2 separate regions of the Homo sapiens genome follow, and region 2 is linked to region 1. Evidence: fine-mapped expression QTL. A gene starts in region 1. The other region holds a variant in brackets. All regions are shown on one strand. Distances are from middle to middle.

Region 1 (10,983 bases):
TGTGTGTGTGTGTGAGTGTGTGTGTGTGTGTATTTTTAGTAAAGACAGGGTTTCACCATGTTGGCCAGGCTGGTCTCCAACTCCTGGCCTCAAGTGATCCACCCACCTTGGACTCCTAAAGTGCTGGGTTTACAGGCGTCAGCCACTACACCCTGCTTTTTTTTTTTTTTTTTAAGAGACGTGTTGCCAGGCTGGAGTGCGGTGGTGCGATCTCGGCTCGCTGCAACCTCCGCCTCCCAGGTCCAAGTGATTCTCCTGCCTCAGCCTCCCGAGTAGCTGGAACTACAGGCACACGCCACCACACCCAGCTAATTTTTGTATGTTTAATAGATATGGATTTTCACCATGTTGGCCAGGATGGTCTGGATCTCCTGACCTCATGATCCGCCTGCCTCGGCCTCCCAAAGTGATGGGATTACAGGCGTGAGCCACCGCGCCCAGACTCCTGGCCTAGTTTGGTAGTTTCTTTCATAGTCGGTTTTCAGAAGACCCTTCCTGGGTCAGAAAACCCATCTACTTAAATTTAATTCGTAATGTACTGCTCTCTTTTTAATCCCTCCACTCCAAGAAGGCTACCTCATCACAAAGCCCTGAAGGCAGTGGAGGAAGGTTCAGCATTACTTAGCATTTGGGACCTTCACAGCCAGCTGCAGGGACTTGGTGGGGCTCCCAGAGCTTTCCTCCCCCCACCAGCTGAAACCCACCCTGCCACACCTGCCCAGAAATTGAGTTACTGACAATTCCTGTACCACAAAGGGAGAGCCCTTTACAAGAGAAAGACAGACATGGAGCTGATGAGGCCACGAGCTCCGCCTTCCTCTTCTCGGTCTGGGCCTGACTCCTGCCAGGCTTTCCAAGGGAACAGTGGTTCCTGTATCCCAAGGTTGTGCCCTGGGCACTCCAAGGGCACTGGACCTGTCCGGGCCTCCTTGGTGTAGAGGGATCTCTAGCCACTCTGGTGTGCCCCAGGCTCTCCATCCGGGAGACCAAAGGTCTTAGGGTAATTCCTGCCTCCGGCTCTATTCCATGGGGACCCTGGTGCTCTGCAAAGCCTCGTGAGCTGAAACCCTAGGTCCCAGGGATCCAACAGACCGAGTCTGCCATTCCAGGATGAGAGTCCCCTTGACGCATGTTCACTCTTCTGGGGACCGTGCGCCGCCGACCCCGGGCCCTGGGCGTTCTATGACCACCCCTGTGAGCACAGGGCTCTGGACAGCCCAGGTCTCAGTCCCGAGTGCTGCCAGGCCCCGGGGCCGGGAGCATCCTGAGTTTGCCCCACGGAGACCCCCACAAGAGCACCGAGCTCTCAATTCCAGAAACCCAGCGCTCCAGGCCTCCCATTCCCAGGGTCTCCGTGTACCGAGGCCTCCCTGCCCCGAGGTCTCCGGGCCCCTGCCGAGGACCCCAGCCCCGCTCCCGCCCCTGCTCACCATGACGCCAGCGGACAGGCCCAGCGGCGACTCCGGGACCAGGGCGCCCGCCCCCGGAAGCCACGCCGTTTCCCGGCAACCGCTGGGCGATGCCGCGATAAGTCACAAGATCCTCGCGAGACTCCGCCGGGCAGCGGCCCTGCCAAAGGCGGGAGTGCGTCCCTAGAGACGGGCGTCCGGAAGGAACCCGGTTGTGAACGTTGGGAAAATGTCGCCGGCAGCCCAGAAGCCTTTCGCTGCAGGGCATGTTTTGCTTATTGCTGGAACCTAAGCTCCACGAGGGGGGAACCCTTCACTTCTATCCTTCAGCGCCTAGAACAGCACACAGCACGTGCTCAGTAAAGACGTGCTGATGAAGGACCATTGAAGGAATGATCAATCAGCCACCCAAGCCTCTGAAACTTTCCCCAAATGAGATTCAAATCTGGGCAAACACTCTATCCCCTGGGCCTCACTCACCCCACCCGCCCACCTTTGAAGGGCCCTCCCAGCTGCTGCGCTGGTGGGTTTACACACACCTCAAAAACGCAGAAATCGGAAAGAAAAATACGTTCCAGTTTAGTTCCAAATGTTTGAAATCAGTAAGTATTCCTTTCACAAAAATAAACTGCTCTTCCTGAAGAGGCCTCCTCCCCACTCCTCACGGATGAAAAGAAACCAGAGGCTTCCCGACAGGCCCTGCAGAAAACAAACAGCTGCCACTTTCCTTTTCTAACTAATCTCTTGTTCTGAAAACTGCTAGCCATTTTACAATTTCTAAAATGAATCTGCCATCCGTGAAACCACCCTGTTACCTACATACAACCATCTATGTCACCCAGAAAGCTGAGTTTGTCATAAACAGGTGCTTTTTTTTTTTTTTTTTTTTGGAGACAGGGTCTCCTTCTGTCGCCTAGGCTGTGATCACAACTCACTGCAGCCTCGACCTCCTGGGCTCAAGCAATCCTCCCACCTCAGCCTCCTGAGAAGCCAGGACTACAGGTGTGAGACACCATACCCAGCTTTTTTTTTTAAGTTTTTAATAGAGACGGGGTCTTGCTTTATTGCCCAGAGTGGTCTCAAACTCCTGGCCTCAAGTGATCCTCCTGCCTCGGCCTCCCAAAGTGCTGGGAGCACGTGAGCCCCACGCCCAGCCCTAAGCTCTCATCTTTAACATCTTCTTAAAAAGTGGTCATCTACTTGGGAGGTTGAGGTGGGAGAATCGTTTGAGCCCTGGAGGTGGAGGTTGCAGTGAGCCAAGATCACACCACTTCACTCCAGCCTAGGTAACAGAATGAGACCTGAGACCCTGTCTCAAAAAAAAAAAGAAAAGGTCTTGTAGCAGATCTTGTTCTCCCATGTGTCTGGGGATGAAGAGTACAGAATCCATGCTCGTAGAAAGTTGTGCTGGGGGCAAAGTGTGAGAAATGAAAGAAGGCCTGGTGGACCTAGGTCTTCCTGTCCAGCTGGGGGAGGAAGTTGCCACATGAGCTGGGTTTGCTCAGGCCTCAGGCACCCACACAGTGGTGGGAATCTGAGAACCACTGTGATGAGAGACTTCCTGTTTGCCCACCTAAGTCCTGATTGTTCTTGGAGAGGAGCAGCCAGTTGGAAGAACTGCATTGGCTCAGCTTGCACAAAGCAGTGATTTATTTATAGTAAGCCCTGAGGCCTCTGTGAAGTCTGGCTGGTCACTGTGCCTGGGCAACCAGGAGCCAGCATCACTGTGCCAGACTCCCTTGGCCTGAGAGGGGCCTCCTCCCCCTGGGACAGGGTGGTCAGACAGTGACGCTGGAGAGCACAGTGGGGGTAATTATTATAATTTAACACTTACTTCACAAAACCAATATGCTAGCAGCTTCATGCTGATTGGCTTTTTGCTTCAGAAGTCTGGATGAGTGTCCTGAATTAAATAGCTGTATTAACAATAATTCCTTTCAGCAAAAAGGGCAAGAATAGGAGGGTTAGCTCAGGATAGCCTAGACAGGGTACTCATTTTTCACAAGCTAAGAGCAATCCTGGTCTGTCGGTGTGGGCTGCAGAGATGAATCATTCAGGGAGCCCTGAATTGCGGCTCCCTGGGATCCCGACAGGGCCCACTGCGACCTGTTCTTTTCATATTGAATTCGAGTTCAGATTTTTAGAAAAGAGCCTTTTCTTCACATATGTGGCTTAAGATACTTTCATTCAGTGTCAAGCTGTGCAGCTCAGAAACCCAGATAAATGGCATCTGAGTTTCCTGCAAAATCCCAGAGCAAATGTTAATACAAACAAACCGACTGCCCTCTGTCTGATGTCTGATGCTTCCTGCCACCCACTATCCACCAGGTAAACCGCCTCAGGCCACGGCATCAACTCAGTGAAGGCCTGGATGCTGGGTTAACAAGAGTGTTTATGAAGACTAGACTTTTTCTTTTCTTTTCTTTTCTTTTTTTTTTTTGAGACATACAATCATAGCTCACGGCAGCCTTGGACTCCTGAGCTCAAGCTGTGCTCCCACCTCAGCCTCCCAAAGGGCTGGGATTACAGGCATGAGTCAATGCTCCTGCAAACGGACTTTCTTTGAGAGATAAATATTGAAGTACTTACAAATGCAATGATCTAATGTGTATATAATTTGCTTCAAAATGACCCAGCAGTGGAGGGAAGTGAATGAGGACAGAGAAGCAGTGGCCCAGGCCAGGAGCTGGCAATCGCTGAATCTGGGCGATAGGGACATGGGGGTCAGTTTCATCGAAACTGCCTTGGCGCTCTCTGCAGCCCGGGCCCGCCGCCCTCTCCTTACCTCCCATCCCCCATCCCGCCCCTTCCAGCCTCCCAAGCACACGCCCTCGCCCCCACCCGCCCCCCGCGTTAATTCGCGCCATCCAGGGCGCTCTGTGAGTCTGTCATTACCCAGCGCGAGTCAGGCCCCTCCTGTGCCCCTCGCCAGCCCCGAGGGGCGCCCGCACACAGTCGGCGCCCCACACGCAAGTACCTGGAAGAGAACAAGAGGACGCCAGCGGGCGCGGCCGCCAAGTGAGTGCGCAGGAGCCCCGGACGCCCGGCCGGGGTCGGGAGGGCGCAGCCAGGTCCCGGTGGTGTCCGCGGCGGGGCGCGGCCCGCGAGGGAAGGGTCGGCGGGGGAGGGGTCCGCTGGGCCAGGGGCCAGCAGGGGGCGCGCGCGGGCCGGGGCGGGGCCGCACCTGTCCTGCGGCTGGGGGGGCGCCGGGAGGGGGCCGGGGCCCGGGAGCAGCTGCGCGCCCCGCCCCGCCCCGCGGGCTCCTCCCTGCCGCCGCGGCCCCCCGGTTGCTGCCCCGATGCGCTGCGCCCGGAGCCGGGGCCGAGTCGCTGCCGCAGCTGTTGGGGCGCCCGGGCCAGGCGACGCCGCCGTCGCCCGTGCCCCTCCCAGACCGCACCGGCCGCATGGAGCCCCCGGAGGGCGCCGGCACCGGAGGTGAGTTCAGCCCCAGCCCCCGAGACCCCCGCGCAGCGCTTCCCCGCAGCGAGCCGCAGCCCCTCCCCCCAGGGCTCACCCTTCGCCGCTCCCGGGAGTCGCGAAGACCCCTTTGGCAGCTCGGGGTCGTCCGGCGGGCCAGGGGCACCTCCCGGGCGCGGTCCCCGCGCGGGGCTGGGGGCACACGGACCGAGTCTCCGCCCCCTTGTTCTCTGCGCTCCCGGCCCGGGAAGCCGTGCCCGGCACGCTCCTTGGTGGGTGGCCCGGAGTTTCGTCCTGAGCCCCCTCCCAGCCAAGCCAGCCGGTGACCCGGGGAGCGGGGGAGGGGGGTTCCGGGGCTGGAGTTTGGGGTCCCTGTCGGTGGGGCGTGAGGGCGACGCTGGCCGCTTGCAAGCGCGTCCGCTTTGTTCGCCCAGCCGCGAGTCCCGGGGGGCGAGGGCCGTAGACTCGCGGGCAGGGATCCTGCCAGGGGCGAGGGGCTGAGATGGGTCTTGGGGATGTGGGGCATGCACGGGCGCGGCCTGCCGGGGACTCCAGAGCTGCAAGGGTGGCTGGTCCGGGAGTGGCCCAGGCGCACGCTCATCGGGGAGGGTAGGTGCGCGTGGAGCGCTCCCTGCCCTGATGGTGGAGGCCCTACTGCAGGACCTTGGAGTCGGTAACGGGAAGAAAGCTCTCAGAACCTCCCCCCTTCCCGATCAGAGACTTTTCCAAAAGGGCTTTCGGGGTTCCATTTGCCTAGGTAGGAACTTGGATGCAAACTGCAGACTCCTCCACCTGCCCAGCCAAGCCCACCACCTCCTGGTTTCCTAGAGCTCCCATTCCAGGGAGCCAGCAGGTGCCTGAGGGCACAGGCAGGCCAGCCTGCCGCTCTGGAACTACATGGGAACCTCTCAGTCCCCCAGCCGCACACAGTGGCATCCTCTGGAGCCCGAAGGGCTGTCCCCGGGAGGAGCAGGTCCACCCACCCTGTGTATCTGCAGTCCAAGGTATAGGGACAAATGCCCCAGGGCTGGTGGGTTTGGGTTTTGATTTGTCATTTGTGGGAGGGACCAGAGCTCTTTCTTAACACTGATAGTCCCAGGCTCCTGGGTATTCCCAGTAGCAGCTTTGTGGACATAGGAAGCCTGGAGGTTGGGAGTGAGGGCTTGGGGGTCTCCGAGCTGTTTCCAGCTGTGAACTGTGGGCAGTCAGGCCCCTGTGAGCCTCAATTTCCATTTCTGTCAGTGGAGACAGTTCTGCTTCCCCTGCAGGGCTGTGGGAGCCCAAGGCATTTGGGAGTGGAGGTTAATATGTTTTCCCTCCTCCTTTGGGAAAAAAGGAGGACTTCCCAGCAGCTTAAAAGGCAGAGAAAGCAGGTTCAGTTTCTGAGCCCATCAGTCACTGGCTGGGGGCTTCAGACACCTGACTCAATCAGTGCACAGGTATTTACCTACAGGTCGCAGCTCTGTGCAGTACCCTGCCTGGGGTGGGGAGTTAGTGGGAAGACAGGGCCCTGTCCTCTGAGGGCTCACGCTCTTGACACCAACTCCTGTTTCCTTGTCTGCAAAGTGGCCAGTGATGCCTACTTTGTGGAACCTCATGAGATCACACATTGGTGACTCTGTCATTACTTATCACTTACTTTTGAAAACCTTACAAAAGTAGAGAGAACGGCGGGACAAAGGCCCATGTGTGACATCCCAGCCCCCAGGCCCACAGCCTCCTCTCCAGACTACCACCAACCTCCCTTCATTAGTGGTTTGAACCAAATCTAGACATATTATTTCACTGATAAATAATTCAGAAATATCTGTAAAATATGATTTTTTTTTTTTTTGAGACGGAGTCTCGCTCTGTTGCCCAGGCCGGAGTGCAGTGGCGCGATCTCGGCTCACTGCAACCTCCACCTCCCGGGTTCACGCCATTCTCCTGCCTCAGCCTCCCCAGTGGCTGGGACTACAGGCGCCCGCCACCACACCTGGCTGATTTTTTGTACTTTTAGTAGAGACGGGGTTTCACTGTGTTAGCCAGGATGATCTCGATCTCCTGACCTCATGACCCACCCGCCTCGGCCTCCCAAAGTGCTGGGATTACAGGCGTCAGCCACCATGCCCGGCAAAATAGGATTTTTATAAAGCATTATTAAAACACTATTTTTGCAACTAAAGGAATTAATGATTTCTTAATATGAAATGTACAGAACACGGAGGTGCACGTGTGCACAGGAATGTGACCTGTGCCCTCTCTGAGGGCCCCACCTGGAAGCCAGGGCTGTAACCCACCCCAACTCAGTCTGCCCAAGGGTCCACAGGGACAGAGGGATCCTCAGGAGGCTGAGAGTCTAGACACGGCCACTCCAGCATCCCTGAAATACTTTGGGGGTCCAAATCCAGAGAGGAAGGTGCTGGGGGATGGGGGGCAGGTGGCCCCTGCCTCTGCGACCATCTCTCCTTCCAGCCATTTAGTTTTATGATATTCATTCATTCACTTCATTAGCTCATCCGTCCATACAGTGGTGTGTGCCAAGTGCCTCCTCGATGCTCTGGACGGGGCCCTGGGCACACAACAGGGAACAGGATTTGGGCCAAGTTTCCCAGTCGAGAATGTGCTGGAAAATAGGTCAGCAGCAGAGCACAGGGCATCAGCAATCAGCCCTCAGGGAAGCCTGGGGGGCCGGGCTGAGGCACCCCAACTCCTGGCTCCCTCGCTGAGGTGCTCCTTCAGTGCCCACTCATCAGCGAGGGCACCAGCAGCCCCTGCAGGGGGGTTGGGTCCCCCTTGATAGGGGCTGTGCTGGGGTAAGGACCAGAACATTGCTGTGTCCCCACACTCTGGGGTCCTTCCTGGGACATCAGAAACACCTGCTTGCCTCTGCCCTGGCCCTGGAGACCTTGGGGGCTGCCAGCACCCGCCCCCATGCCTGCCTGGCATTGAGCCTCTGGTTCCCACCCTGGGAAAAGCAGCAGGTCTCGCCCGTGAGGAATTTTCTTCTTCCTACAAGCTTGTTGAGAGGGTGTCAGACAGGCCTGGGTGATTCCTAGCGCAGTCCCTCACTAACCGTGGGCTAGTTGATTCACCCTCATTTGTTTACTGCGCACCTACTGTGCGCTAGGTCCCAGGAATGCAGCCATGAACTAGATACAAGCCGCTTAGAGCTGATGCTTCTCGCTCTACCCAGTCCCAGCCTGCTCTGGGGCTGTGCCTGGGGGTCTGGCGTGTGGCCGACTCACAGTGTATGTGAGTCTCTGTCATTTCCTCCCGGCTTTGCCTATCAGTTCCAGCCAAGATCAACCTTTGTTTCCATTGAGGATTGTTTTTAAATTGAGATATTATTCACATATAAAGTTCACCCTTTTAAAGTGTACAACTCACTGTTTCAGTATATTCACAAAATTGTGCAGTCACCACCACTATCTAATTTTATAATATCTTCATTACCCCCCCAGAAAGAAACCCATACCCGTTCTCCCCTTCTCCACTGCCCACCCCCCAGCCTCTGACGATCACTGATGGAATGTCTACGCGCTTGCCTATTCTGGACATTTCCTAGGAACGGCGTCACACAGCATTTGTCCTTTTGGGCCTGGCTTCCTTCACTCGAATGAGGTGATCAGGCTCATGCATGTGATATCCGGTGTCAGTACCGCCGTCCTTCTTGGGTTGAATCTCACTCCATGGTAGGCACAGACCACATTCTGTTTATCCATTGATCCACTGAGGACATTGGATTATTTCCACTTTTGGCTACTGTGAATCACGCTATGAACATGCATGTGCAGCTGACTCTTGAACAACGTTAAGTGTTAGGGGTGCCCACCTCCCTCAAAGTCAGAAATCCACATAGAACTTTTCACTCCCCAAAAACTTAACTGCTAATAGCCTACTGTTGACCAGAACTTTACTGATATGGTCAACGAACACATATCTGTATGCTGCATGTATTACACAGTAGGCTCAGTCATTTGAGGACCCACGAGCATGCCTTATAGCAGCTGCACGCTCTTCATGCCAAGATCCATCGTGCCCCTCCTGGGGGCTCAGGTCTTGTCCCTGGTATCACATTCTTCTGGCCAAAAAATTCGTGTCCTGATGGCAGAAGCTGCATCTTCCAAATTTTCCTTCCCCAAAGCCCCAACACAGACCACGGCACCAGACTTTACAGAATAAAGACCAGGCCAAAGGGAGATGGGGAAGGACCAGACTAGACACCTGGTGGCTTCAAATGCTTACAGGACTGGATCTCATCAACGCTGACACCATCAGCTACAGATGTGTTGCTGTCTCAAGAATGTGGAAATAAGAAAAGATGCTTTTTTTTTTTTTTTTGAAACAAGAGTCTCGTTCTGTCGCCCAGGCTGGAGTGCAGTGGCATGATCTCTGCTCACTGCAAACTCCACCTCCTAGGTTCAAGCGAGTCTCCTGCCTCAGCCTCCTGAGTAGCTGGGACTACAGGCACGTACCACCACACCGGCTAATTTTTGTATTTTTAGTAGAGACGGGGTTTCGCCATGTTGGCCCAGACTGGTCTCGAACTCCTGGCCTCAAGTGATCCGCCCGCCTTGGCCTCCCAAAGTGCTGGGATTACAGGCGTGAGCCACCGCGCCCGGCCGAAAGGATACTTCTTAAGAGTCAACTATGATATTCATTCCACACAGGGCTGCTGTGAAGCTTCCACAGGGCTAGAGCTTTGTCCCAGAAGCTGTCTGTAGCCCCTTGGGACCCCAGGATCTATAATGAGGACTGCTGGCATTCGCATGCCCCCTCTCCAGTGCAAGATGGGGAAGGGGATTGCTGTTTGGCTGAGGTCCTGCTTGGGACCTCCATCTCAGCACAAGCAGAGGGTGCCTGCAGACTTACCTCCCTCTGGACTGTGCCCTTGCTGGCCTCGTCGTAAAAATGCAGGTATTGGCCCGGCACGGTGGCTCACACCTATAATCCCAGCACTTTGGGAGGCCAAGGCGGGCGGATCATGAGGTCAGGAGTTCAAGACCAGCCTGGCCAACAGGGAGAAACCCCATCTCTACTAAAGATACAAAAATTAGCCAGGCATGGTGGCGCACGCCTGTAATCCCAGCTACTTGGGAGGCTGAGGCAAGAGGATCCCTTGAACCCAGGAGGTGGAGTTTGCAGTGAGCAGAGATCGCGCCATTGCCCTCCAGCCTGGTGACAGAGCGAGACTCCATCTCAAAAAAAAAATAATAATAATAATAATTTAAAAATTCAGGTAGATGCTGTCCCACTCCATTCAAAACCCTTCAACGGCTTCTCTCAGCTTACTCAGTATAGAAACCAAAGTCCTGACGATCTCCACACGACCTGCACACACCACCCCTGCCCTGCCTCACAGCCCCCAGCTGTCCTCAAATGCACTCTGCTCAGGCCTTTATGCATGTCCCCCCCCGCCCCACCCAGTATCACACGGCTCCCTCCCACCTCCAGGCTCCTCCTCCAAGTTTGGTAGAGCACCCTCCCCAGATGCCCCCTAAAATGGGAGCACAGCCCCGCACTGCTCACTGGCACTGGCCGTCCCTCAGAAGGGCAGGAATCATCTATTTTGTCTATGCCATGTCCCCAGAACAGAGGGTGATTCGGAAGTCTTGGTTGGGTGAATGAATGAATCAGAGCCTTCGTCTAGATGAGGGGCCCCGCCCAGTGAGAGGGGGACTACAAGGGGAGACGCCACCTCTGTCCCACCTTCCTTCAGAGATCCACGTCCCCCCAGGTCAGGACCCAGGGAACCTAAGCCAGCAAGTGGGGACTTCCTGCTCCCTCTGCTGGGCCCTGAACCGGGATCCCTGGTTCCCATCTCCACGCCATGATCAGGAACAGGCTGACAGGTGATGGCTGAGAGCTCCAGCTGCGTCCCTGGCCAGCCCTGTGCTGCATGCTGGGGACAGACGCTGAGCTGCTCTGTGCCTCAGCTTCCTCCTCTCAAGTACAAAGCTCAGAGTCTTCCCCATGTAGCTGGGAGTTAGGGTGAGGTGAGAATGGAGTTAGTCAATAAACACAGAATGCTGGGACTGTACTAGAAAACCATAAGCCACTGTCTTTTTTTTTTTTTTTTTTTTTAAGGCAAGGTTTCGCTCTGTTGCTCAAGCTGGATGGCACGATCACAGCTCACTGCATTCTTGACTTCCTGGGTTTCAGGCGGACCTCCTGC
Region 2 (10,983 bases), 32 kb after region 1:
TCAACATCAGGCAGGCGTGGTCACAGCTTGATGCTGGGGGAAGTCAGCGCGTCCCATGTGGCTCCATTGGGGGAGGGTTCAACACGGACCTGGTCTCCCCACGACCCAATGCGCCTTCTCCCCTGGCTGATTTTGCTGTATCCTTTAACGGTAATAAAGCCCTGAGTGCTACTATAGACTGAGTCCTATGACTTCTAGCATGTCACCACATCTGGGGTGGTCTTAGGGACCCCAACACGGCCCTAAAGCCAAAGTGAAAATCACATCTGCCAAAGGTCTAAGTGAAAGTTTGTCCAAATCTGAAAGCTGGCACAGAAGCCTGGACGTGTCCAATGAGGCTTTAGCAGGACTGACAGACAACGATCAGTCACATCTTAGCTACAATCACTCTGAGAGGAGGCAGGCCTGGGGAGTCTGTGAGATTCTGGGTGATGCAGGGGCAGCAAGACAAGGCTCAGAGTGGAAGGAGCATGGGTTGTGCACACACCACCCTGTGGGCACCGTCAGGAGCAGCCATGCTCGGCTACCTGGTCCCCCTCCCCAGAGAAGCAGGTGTCTCCACACTCCAGAGAACTCCTCTCCATCTGGGGGCAGGGGAATGCACTGGAGGAGGCTTGTGAATCTAACACAGCTTTCTCCAGTACGTTTGCCTGAGAGAACCCTTCCTTAAAAACAGAATAATCAGGGATTCTCTTCTGGGGGTGACTGTACAGAAAAAGGCTGTGCAGACTATTCCTAAGCAGCTGCAGGGGAACAGCTGCACACACTGTCCATCTCCACGAGCATCTGGTTCAGGGTGTTCTCCTGCTCACTCTGGCCTCCAAAGTGCCCTTGGCCTCGCTTCCTGCCAATCGCATCAATCTCATCAATGAATAAGATACATGGAGCGTTTTTTTCGGGCCATTGCAAACATGTCATGAACCTGAAACAGGAACCCACCCAGAATCGGTTTTGCTACTGGTAGGAAGACGGGAACGCCAGTTATCCTCCACCCTCTCCTTGGAAACCTCTGACCCATTTTGCCTCAGTGCACCAGCACCTCCCACACATGCCCATGCCCAGGGCCCCACACTAAGCTATTCAAGTTGACCAGTCCTGGTCAAGGCACGGTGCTGAGGCCACCTGCAGCAGGTTCCCATCCACCTACCCTTGCTGGCCCAACGCCAATAAACATTTCCAGGAACTCAGACCCGTTCACAGTGATGAAGGGCACAGTGGCCTCCCCTGCAGTTGCTTTGGCAAGAAGGGTCTTGCCGGTACCAGGAGGACCAGTGAGCATGGCTCCCTGAAACAGAATGGTGACATCGGGCTCTTAACAGGGGAGCAGATGATACACAGGTGAGAGAGCTGCTTAAACTGGTGACTTCTGAGATTGACTAAGAAGAATCCCATTAGGGATGGCTAAGGAGCTGCAGGGCAGGAGGGGGCCAGACTTGCCCACAGCACACTCCGTCCTACCCATGTGCTCCAGGAGAGGCACCCACCATGGCCGCACACACAGCCAGCTCTTCATGATGGATTCTCATGGGGGATGCCACAGGCAGAGGTAATTCTGGGAAATCACTGTACCTCATACCCAAGAACGGGAAACCTAGATGGGCCCTGACCCCACTAACTCTTTCCTGACATCCACAGCAGAGCACGAGGCCTGTGATGTAACACAGAAGCTGACAGAGCCCCCTCTCGCAGGAGCCCCTGCCTGCTGGGAAAGGGGGACCAACACACCACGTGAGGGGCCTTTCTTGGTACCTGACTGCCTCACCCACTCCATCATACAGATTTTCCCCAGCAAATACATGCATATGAAAAAAAAACTGTAATTTGTTCAGCAGCAATAGATATAAATTAAAAAAAAAAAAAGGATGCGATCGCTCACACCTGTAATCTCAGCACTTTGGGAGGCTAAGGCAGGTGGATCACCTGAAGTCAGGAGTTTGAGACCAGCCTGGCCAACATGGTGAAATCCTGTCTCTACTAAAATTACAAAAATTAGCTGGGCGTGGTGATACACAACTGTTAATTCCAGCTTCTCAGGAGGCTGAGGCAGGAGAATAGCTTGAACCCGGGAGGTGGAGGTTGCAGTGAACCAAGATCGCACCACTGCACTCCAGCCTGGGCAACAGAGCAAGACTCTGTCTCCAAAAAAAAAAAGGCCGGGCGCGGTGGCTCACGCTTGTAATCCCAGCACTTTGGGAGGCCGAGGCGGGCGGATCACGAGGTCAGGAGATCGAGACCATCCTGGCTAACACGGTGAAACCCCGTCTCTACTAAAAATACAAAAAAAATTAGCCGGGCGTGATGGTGGGCGCCTGTAGTCCCAGCTACTCGGGAGGCTGAGGCAGGAGAATGGCGTGAACCCGGGAGGTGGAGGTTGCAGTGAGCCGAGATTGCGCCACTGCACTCCCGCCTGGGCCACAGAGCGAGACTCCGTCTCAAAAAAAAAAAAAAAAAAAAATTCTGAAAGGCAAAGAGAACCACCCACTGCAGCACCTGACTATGAGCTGAGGTGAATGGCAGCTGCCAGTGGAGCTCCAACAGGAGCAGAAGGCCCCAGGCTCTGCACATCTGTCACACACACCTGCTTCCCAGCCTCATGCTCATCAAAGTGGAAAACAGGTCTGTCACCTTCTGGCTCCGCCCCAGGTTCCCGGTGCTTGGTATAATCATTATTTGTTGTTTGGAACAAACTGCCCAGTGAATGCCCACCCCATCGGGAGGTGCTGGGGGGTGGGGGTGCAAGGCCACTGCAAGGATCTGGATGTCAGCCTGGTCCAAAGCCCAGAGGTGAGTTAAAAGGGTGTGTGAATCGAGTTTCTGTGAATGCAAATATTTCTGGGAAAAAAAATCCATGGCTTCTCTCAGGCCCCCAAAGAGTCATGACCCCAAAATGGCACGAAGAGATAAACTTGCTCTGTGTGCCCAGCAGCCAGATCCAGCACCCTGACCCACACCACCTGCAACGCGCTGGCTGACTGCCCGCACACACGTAGCCGCCGTCTGGCTGCACACACCTAGCCGCTGGCTGGGTCACGGGCTTACCAAGAGGCAACTACATCTGATCCCAAGCCTGTTCATACAAGTTGTACCTGTTGTTCTATGTAATTAATATTAAATTAATAAAACAGGAGTAAGAACCGACTCTGACCCACAGCCATCTATGTGGAGCTCAGAGTATTACTATGTTTTCCAAAATCAATACCTTTGGAATTTTTGCTCCTAAGTCCTGATACTGCTTGGGATTCTTCAGGAAATTCACAAATTCCATAATTTCCAATTTGATTCTTCGCACCCAGCTACGTCTGCAAATAACACATCGATGTTGCTTTTTAAGATCTTGGCTGCTGTCTCACCAACACCGAAGAGGCCCCCTCCTCGTCTACTGCGCCTGGATCCCATAAGGCCCCTCCTGGCAGCATAGACGAGAATGCCAACCAGGAGAAGGGTGGGCACCAGACTTCACAAGAAAGAGCTGGAAAATCCAAGAGAACTACTTGTCACACTCAGGAGGTCAGAAATAGCACCTTCATGCCAGGCACGGTGAGTCACGTCTGTAATCCCAGCACTTTGGGAAGCCACGGTGAGAGGATCTCTTGAGCCCAGAAGTTCAAGACCAGCCTGGGCAACGTGGCAAGACTCCGTCTCTAAAAAAATTTATAAAAATGACCGGGTGTGGCGGCTCACACCTGTAATCCCAGCACTATGGGAGGCCAAGGCAGGTGGATCACCTGAGGTAAGGAGTTCGAGACCAGCCTAAACAACCTGGTGAAACCCTGTCTCTAGTAAAAATACAAAAATTAGTTGGGCATGGTGGCGTGTGCCTGTAGTTCCAGCTCCTCAGGAGGCTGAGGTAAGAGGATTGCTTGTGCCTGGGAGTTCAAGTCTGCAGTGAGCCATGACTACACAACTACACTCCAGCCTGGATGACAAAGCAAAACTCTGTCTCTTAGAGGAGACCGCTCTAGGACTTTGTGTTGCTACACAAAAGGTAGCAGGGTTTTTTCCTTTTTTTGAGAGAGGGTCTCACTGTCACCCAGGCTGGTGGGCAGTGGCATGATCACAGTAACCTTGAACTCCCAGGCTCAAGAGATTCTCCTGCCTCAACCTCCTGAGTAGCTAGAACCACAGGCATGCATGCCACCACAACAGATAATTTTTTAACTTTTTATAGATACGCAGTCTCACTATGTTGCCCAGCTGGTCTCGAACTCCTAGTCTCAGGTGATCCTCCCTCCTCAGCCTCCCAAAGCACTGGGATTACCTCTGTGAGCCATCACGCCCGGCCCTCGGCCTCTTTTTTTTTTTTTTTTTGAGAAGGAGTCTCACTCTGTCGCCCAGGCTGGAGTGCAGTGGCGAGATCTCGGCTCGCTGCAAGCTCCGCCTCCCAGGTTCACACCATTCTCCTGCCTCAGCCTCCCGAGTAGCTGGGACTACAGGCGCCCGCCACCACGCCCGGCTAATTTTTTGTATTTTTAGTAGAGACGGGGTTTCACCATGTTAGCCAGGATGGTGTCGGTCTCCTGACCTCATGATCCGCCCGCCTTGGCCTCCCAAAGTGCTGGGATTACAGGCGTGAGCCACCGCACCCGGCCTCTTTCTTTTAAATGTGTCAAAGTCCATCAAGCACGAGGCCTCTCCAATTCTGAAGGCTCTAGTCACAGGCATTTCTATCTCCCTGATGGAACCTGTGGCTGGCTTGGTGGGGCAGGGAGAGTGACCACCCACCACCTCCTCCACCTCCTCCACCTCCTCCACCTCCTCCACCTCCTCCACCTCCTCCACCTGGCCAAGCAGCCCTGCTGGAGCTTACACCACAGTGTCTCCCCCGGGAGGTGCCGCCAGCAGACCCAGCAAGGCCTCCTCACATCTAGGGCCAACTGGGTTGTTTTGTCACAGGAAGACACCAAATGTCCGCCTGGTTTATTTTTGTCTTTGCTCTTGCTCTTCCAAGGCTCGAGGCCATCCCTCCTCCAGCGGCTCCACACTCACTTTCAGCCCCACATACAACCAGGCATCCTGGCAACTCAACAAGCAAAGACAGAACCCAAGTCAGCAATAAACAGCACCCAGATGACATCCGGGAGCTCCATCCAGCAGGAGACCACAGGCACTTCGGGCCCTGCCACTAGAATCTGAGAGAGAATCTCCAGAATTCTACCTGCCTCACCTTCTCTCACCCCACTGCAGCCCCTACTCTGTGCTTAAACATACGTCTCAAAGAAACCGCCCACACCACTACGATTCCAATTTTTACACCCTCCTGGCTAAAGCTGGTACTGGATTTGTACTCTCTCTCGGTTCAGTTTC[C/T]AATTCAGGGCAGAAGGGCCGCAGAAGACAGAGCAATGACAAACCCAGGAAGTGAAAACACGAAAACAGGATCCACGCTTAGCAACACTGACTTCTGTGCTGAGTCCTGGGACGCACAGAGTATTTCATCTGGTCTTTGCCCTTGTGTTCATAATTACTTTAAGAACATACGATGCAGCGGAAATCCAAGATAATATGAGAGCCACTGGAAGCTTAGAATGACCAAGTGTCGGCCGGGGGCGGTGGCTCATGCCTGTAATCCCAGCACTTTGGGAGGCCGAGGTGGGCGGATCACGAGGTCAGGATATCGAGACCATCCTTGCTAACACAGTGAAACCCCCTCTCTACTAAAAATACAAAAAATTAGCCGGGCGTGGTGGTGGGCGCCTGTAGTCCCGGCTACTCGGGAGGCTGAGGCAGGAGAATGGTGTGAAGCCAGGAGGTGGAGGTTACAGCAAGCTGAGACTGCGCCACTGCACTCCAGCCTGGGCGACAGAGCGGAAGACTGTCTCAAAAAAAACCAAAAGAACGACCAAGTGTCAGGTACTACATGGGAGCTACAGGGTTGTGTGCAGGGACCCCCAGCACCTGGAAGGATGGGTCAGGGCTGCCCAAAAGGGAGCCTGGGGAAGTCACAGGTGCTCAAGCCCCACCTCTGGACGTTAATTCGACACTTCTGCAGGAGTGGCAGGTAGAAATGATGAAAGTGCATTTTGACAGGGCTCTCGTAGTGATCCTGCTGCATGGCCCAATTGTGGAAGGCTTCCTATGGGACTTCAGGGAATTTCTGCTCCAACAATAACCCAACGACTGGTTTTCTTTTGTAACATTGCCTAGCCAAATATTTCCCTGCTTCAATTCTCATGAAAAAACAGTAAAAAACAAATATATACATATATGTGTGTGGGGGTGTGTGTGTGTGTGTATATATATATATATATATATATATATATATATGTAAAAAAGTATATATATAAAAGTGTATATATAAAAGTATATTATATATATAAAAGTATACATATATAAAAGTATATATATAAAAGTATACATATATAAAAGTATATATATAAAAGTATACATATATAAAAGTATATATATGTAAAAGTATGTATATATAAAAGTATATATATATATATAAAAGTATATATATATTTTTTACTACAGACATTGCTTATTACAGATGCCTCTAATAAGCTTGAAAAACAAATTCCAACACAGCTTAAATGTTGCATTTCTGTTTTGTGTTCACACAGAGGCCCTTCGCCATCCTCCTCACCCATCACTCTCGCTGGTGTAGACTACCACTGCCTGGTTGTGGGGCTCGATCCCCAGCTCCCCTTGAGCAGACTCCAGGTTCCGCTCGAAGGTATCAACGCTGCCAATGTTAAACCACAAGAACTTCTGCAGAGAGCAAGAGCAAGCTTAGGGTGCATCGCCGTGTCCCACACTGAGCCCCACCCTCACACACGCATCTCCCACTGCCTCTTCTCCTAGCCTTAATCTCCACATGGGTGAGGCCTGTGCAGAGGCTAGCTCCAAGGGAAACTAACTAACAGCAGAAGACTCTGGTTTTGGCCCCACGAAATTAGTCTTTAAGTTCTAGATGGAAGTGTAAAATGTCCAACAACTGCTGGGGTGTGCCTTTGTCTCTTTTTCTTTTCTTTTTTTTTTTTTTTGAGACAGTCTCCCTCTGTCACCCGGGCTGAAGTGCAGTGGGATGATCTTGGCTCACTGTAACCTCCACCTCCCGGGTTCAAGCAATTCTCATGCCTCAACCTCCTGAGTAGCTGCGATTACAGGCACAGGCCACCATGTCCGGCTAATTATTGTATTTTTAGTAGAGATGGGGTTTCACCATGTTGGCCAGGCTAGTCTTGAACTCCTGGCCTCAAGTGATCTGTCCGCCTCTGTCTCCCAAAGTGCTGGGATTACAGGCATGAGCCACCACGGCCAGCCATTCCTTTTGGCTTTTTACTCTTTTATCTTTGTCTCCTTCTCTTCTCTCCCCACAATCCTTGATGAGTTGTTCTCAGACACTGCTTGGCAAATCTGAACCCTAGTCAGTCTTATAAGGGCTCCTGTCCTCCTTGGAAGGCTTTGTTATTGATACATGCCAATGAGAAAAAAACACATTAACGAGTAGCTGATGGATACTAAGGGAGTATTTTACTGAAAAAAATAGAAAACTACATTTTTACACGAAATAAACTTATGTCTGCAATACTCAGCCTTAAATTCACCCCTCACTTCAGAAGAGGTCCCAGGGGCAGGAATAACACGCACAGATTGTTTGTTCACGACTTCCAGCCGGTCCACCTGGGAAAAAGAGAAAAATAATCAGCACAGCTAGAGCAGTGAGTATGATATTCAACAGTAAACAGGGGCCTCACCCTCAGACCAGCCCACAGCTAAAGCAATGAGTATCATATTCAACACTAAACCACGGGCCTCATCCTCAGACCAGCCCCACAGTGCAGACCGAGACTCCAACGGTGTCTGAGAAGCTGCATCCACTCTGCTGTGCAGATCCGAGTTTTGTTTTCTGACTGATTTGGACATTTCTAGCCTGGCCTGTGCATGTAATTCAAGAGGAGTTACAATTTGGTACATCTGAGCACCAAAGATTCCAGAGTGACTTAAAAATCTAAAAGGAAGGCCAGGCGCAGTGGCTCAGACCTATAATCCTGGCACTTTGGGAGGCTGAGGAGGGTGGATCACTTGAGGCCAAGAGTTCGAGACTAGCCTGGCCAACGTGGTGAATCCCTGTCTCTACTAAAAATACAAATATTAGCCAGATGTGGTGGGGCGTCCCGGTAATCCCAGCTACTCAAGCGGCTGAGGCAGGGAGAACTGCTTGACCCCGGGAGGCGGAAGTGGCAATGAGCCAAGACTGTACACTGCACTCCAACCTGGGCAACAGAGTGAGACTCCATCTGAAAAAAAAAATCTAAAAGGCATAGAGGTCTCAGACTGACAATACAGCAAAGTCTTCCGGAACTCATCCAGAAACATTTCGCCCACACAGCTGCAGATACCACAAGAAAATGGTGCCACCAAGAATGAAAATGCAACCCCAAAGGCCTCCACGAAGCCACCCAGCGGCGAACACAGCCCGACAGCCGGTGCGCAGCAAAAACACAACTTGAGAGTGCGGCCATTTCCTTAGGTATCATGACAACAGCGTTGCTTTCTCCTCTCCACAGAATCTGAAACCACTATAACCCTACTTTTCTTGACTACTCAGGGTCATGTGACCAACACGAACGTGTTTATGACAGGGGCCTCTTGACCATAACGCAACCGCATCACGGTCAGCGTGTCAGATACCTGGAGAGGACCTCACAGAAGCTCTGGGATCTGTCCAGAACCCACACACCAGCAGGCATCTTGCTCCTCACAGCAGCAGCTGTGAGTGAAGACCAACAGCAGAGATGGGCTGCAGCAGCTCTCCCTTCCTCCCATAAGGAGTCATCAGGGACCTCTCTGAAGACAGGTGTGTGCCCTGTGGCCAGACAAAAAGGCCTTGGGTGGTGGTTCACAACTGTAATCATAGCACTTCAGGAGGACAAAGTGGGAGCATCACTTGAGCCCAGGAGTCTGAGACTAGCCTGGGCAACATAAGGAGACACTGTCTCTAAAAAAAAAAGTGCGGGCTGGGCACAGTGGCTCACGCCTGTAATCCTGGCACTTTGGGAGGCCAAGGTGGGAGGATTGCCTGAGCTCAGGAATTCGAGACCAGCCTGGGCAATACAGTGAAACCCTGTCTCTACTAAAATACAAAAAACTAGCAACCTCCACCTCCCATGGAGGTGTAGTGGCCAGAACCTGTAATCCCAGCTACTCAGGAGGCTGAGGCAGGAGAATCACTTGAACCAGGGAGGTGGAGGTTGCAGTGAATACAGATCGTGCCACTGTACTCCAGCCAGGGCGACACAGCGAGACTCCATGTCGGAAAAAAAAAATTACATTTTTTACAGTCCCAGATACTCAGAAGGCTGAGGTGGGAGGCTGGCTTGGAACCAGAAGGTCAAGACTTCACACCACTGCACTCCAGCCTGGGTGACAGAGCAAGACCCTGTCTCAAAAAAATTAATTAATTAATTAATTAAAAAAAAAAAAAAGGCCTTAGCCACAAACCCTGGTGGGAAAACAGGACTTTCCTACAGAAAGAAGTTCAGATCTTAACACTGTATCAGTTAACAAACGTCCTTCTGAGGGCAACTGAGAAGCACGGCACCTGCTCTCATGTAACTTTATACTAAACCCTGAGCAGTGCTTCACCAGCCTTCAGCAACCCGACAGACCAGGCCCAGTGAAGGACAGGCGGAGGCTTGCTGGTTACTAAACCCTGAGCAGTGCTTCACCGGCCTTCAGCAACCCGACAGACCAGGCCCAGTGAAGGACAGGCGGAGGCTTGCTGGTGCCACATGCCCCTGTGCACAGACACAAAGCCCCAGCCGCTGTCCAGGGTCAGCCAGCAAAGGACAGGGGTGCAGGAGGGGACACGGGTACACTAGGGGAAACAAAAGATCTGCATTAGGTATGTAATTGATACTTGATGATAAACAGACACAATCAGACAATCAGAACTTACTCACAGAAGCTGAAGCTAAAAACAAAAAGCCAAGATGTTAAGGAAGCTTCCACCTTGCAAGAAAATGGGCTTATTAACCTTCTGTTGGGGAAAGTAAAACTGTGTCTCATCTAAAAAATGAGCTTCCTAACCTTCTGTTGGGCTGGCTACTGGGAAAAGTAAACCTGTGTCTCATCTATGGCCTGAGGGTGGGACTGCCCAGGACATCTACCACACAACGGGTTTTCAACCCAGGCCTCAGAGCTCACAGCTTCTTAAGGGCATCGCAGACCACGTGCACCACTACAGCGGCCTCCTTCCCAGGTAGGTAAACTATAAATTCCTCTCACCAGACCTCTGGCCAGGTAATACTGTACAAAGTGCTTCCACGTGATTTCTCTTCCAGGATCTCGAAAATAGAGGTAGAAAAATCCCATGGCAACGCCTGCCCCCAAAAGGGCCAGACTGCGGAAATCCTCGTCATCCCAGGGGAAGTCCCCCCTGTGGAAAAAAGAAAACACATTTTCCAGTTAAATGAAGGTAGTTTCTTTATGAAAATAGCTATTTCCTTTTTCAGATGTTATTAGGAAAGTTTTGCAACCCCCCCCCACCGACCGTACACAATGTAGCCTCAGTTCCTCTCATGAGGAAAGATCTTTACGTGGTGTATGACACACACTGAAAGCCGCAGCTCAGCAGATGCCTCAGGAGAAGCAGAAAGTCCACAGAGAGCGCTGTGTTTGAGCCACTGTTGCTAGGGTTCTCTCTTATGGGGGTCTGTTAAAATCCAGACAGAGGCCAGGCGTGGTGACTCAGCTCTGTAGTCCCAGCACTAAAGGAGGCCAAGGTGAGAGGACTGCTTGAGCCCAGGAGTTCGAGACCAGCCTGGGCAACGGTGGGTGACCCCATGTCCACAAAAAATTTAAAAAAAAATTAGCCAGGAGTGGTGGTGCAAGCCTGTGGTCTCAGCTGCTCTAGAGGCTGAGGTGGGAGAATCATCTGAGCCTGGGAAGTCAAGGCTACAGTAAGCAGTGATCGTATCACTGCACTCCAGCCTGGATGACACAGTGAGACCCTATCTCAAAAATAATAATAATAATAAAATC

The links.
Region 2: its variant is fine-mapped to the expression of DBNDD1 in whole blood (TOPMed, PIP above 0.99).

What each region holds. Positions count from the first base shown.
Region 1 is chr16:90,013,172-90,024,154 of GRCh38, reverse strand. DBNDD1 (dysbindin domain containing 1) reads left to right here and starts at 4,699. Exons shown (of 4, transcript NM_001042610.3): 1 at 4,699-4,844. The coding sequence starts at 4,814. DRC4 (dynein regulatory complex subunit 4) reads right to left here and starts at 1,475. Exons shown (of 11, transcript NM_001481.3): 1 at 1,431-1,475. The coding sequence starts at 1,433. RefSeq lists silencers at 3,400-3,694, 4,441-4,580.
Region 2 is chr16:89,981,168-89,992,150 of GRCh38, reverse strand. It overlaps the pseudogene AFG3L1P. Among named protein-coding and RNA genes, the nearest start is that of DBNDD1, 33 kb to the left of the region's middle. RefSeq lists a silencer at 3,601-3,775. The variant C/T (reference allele first, on the strand shown) is at 5,305.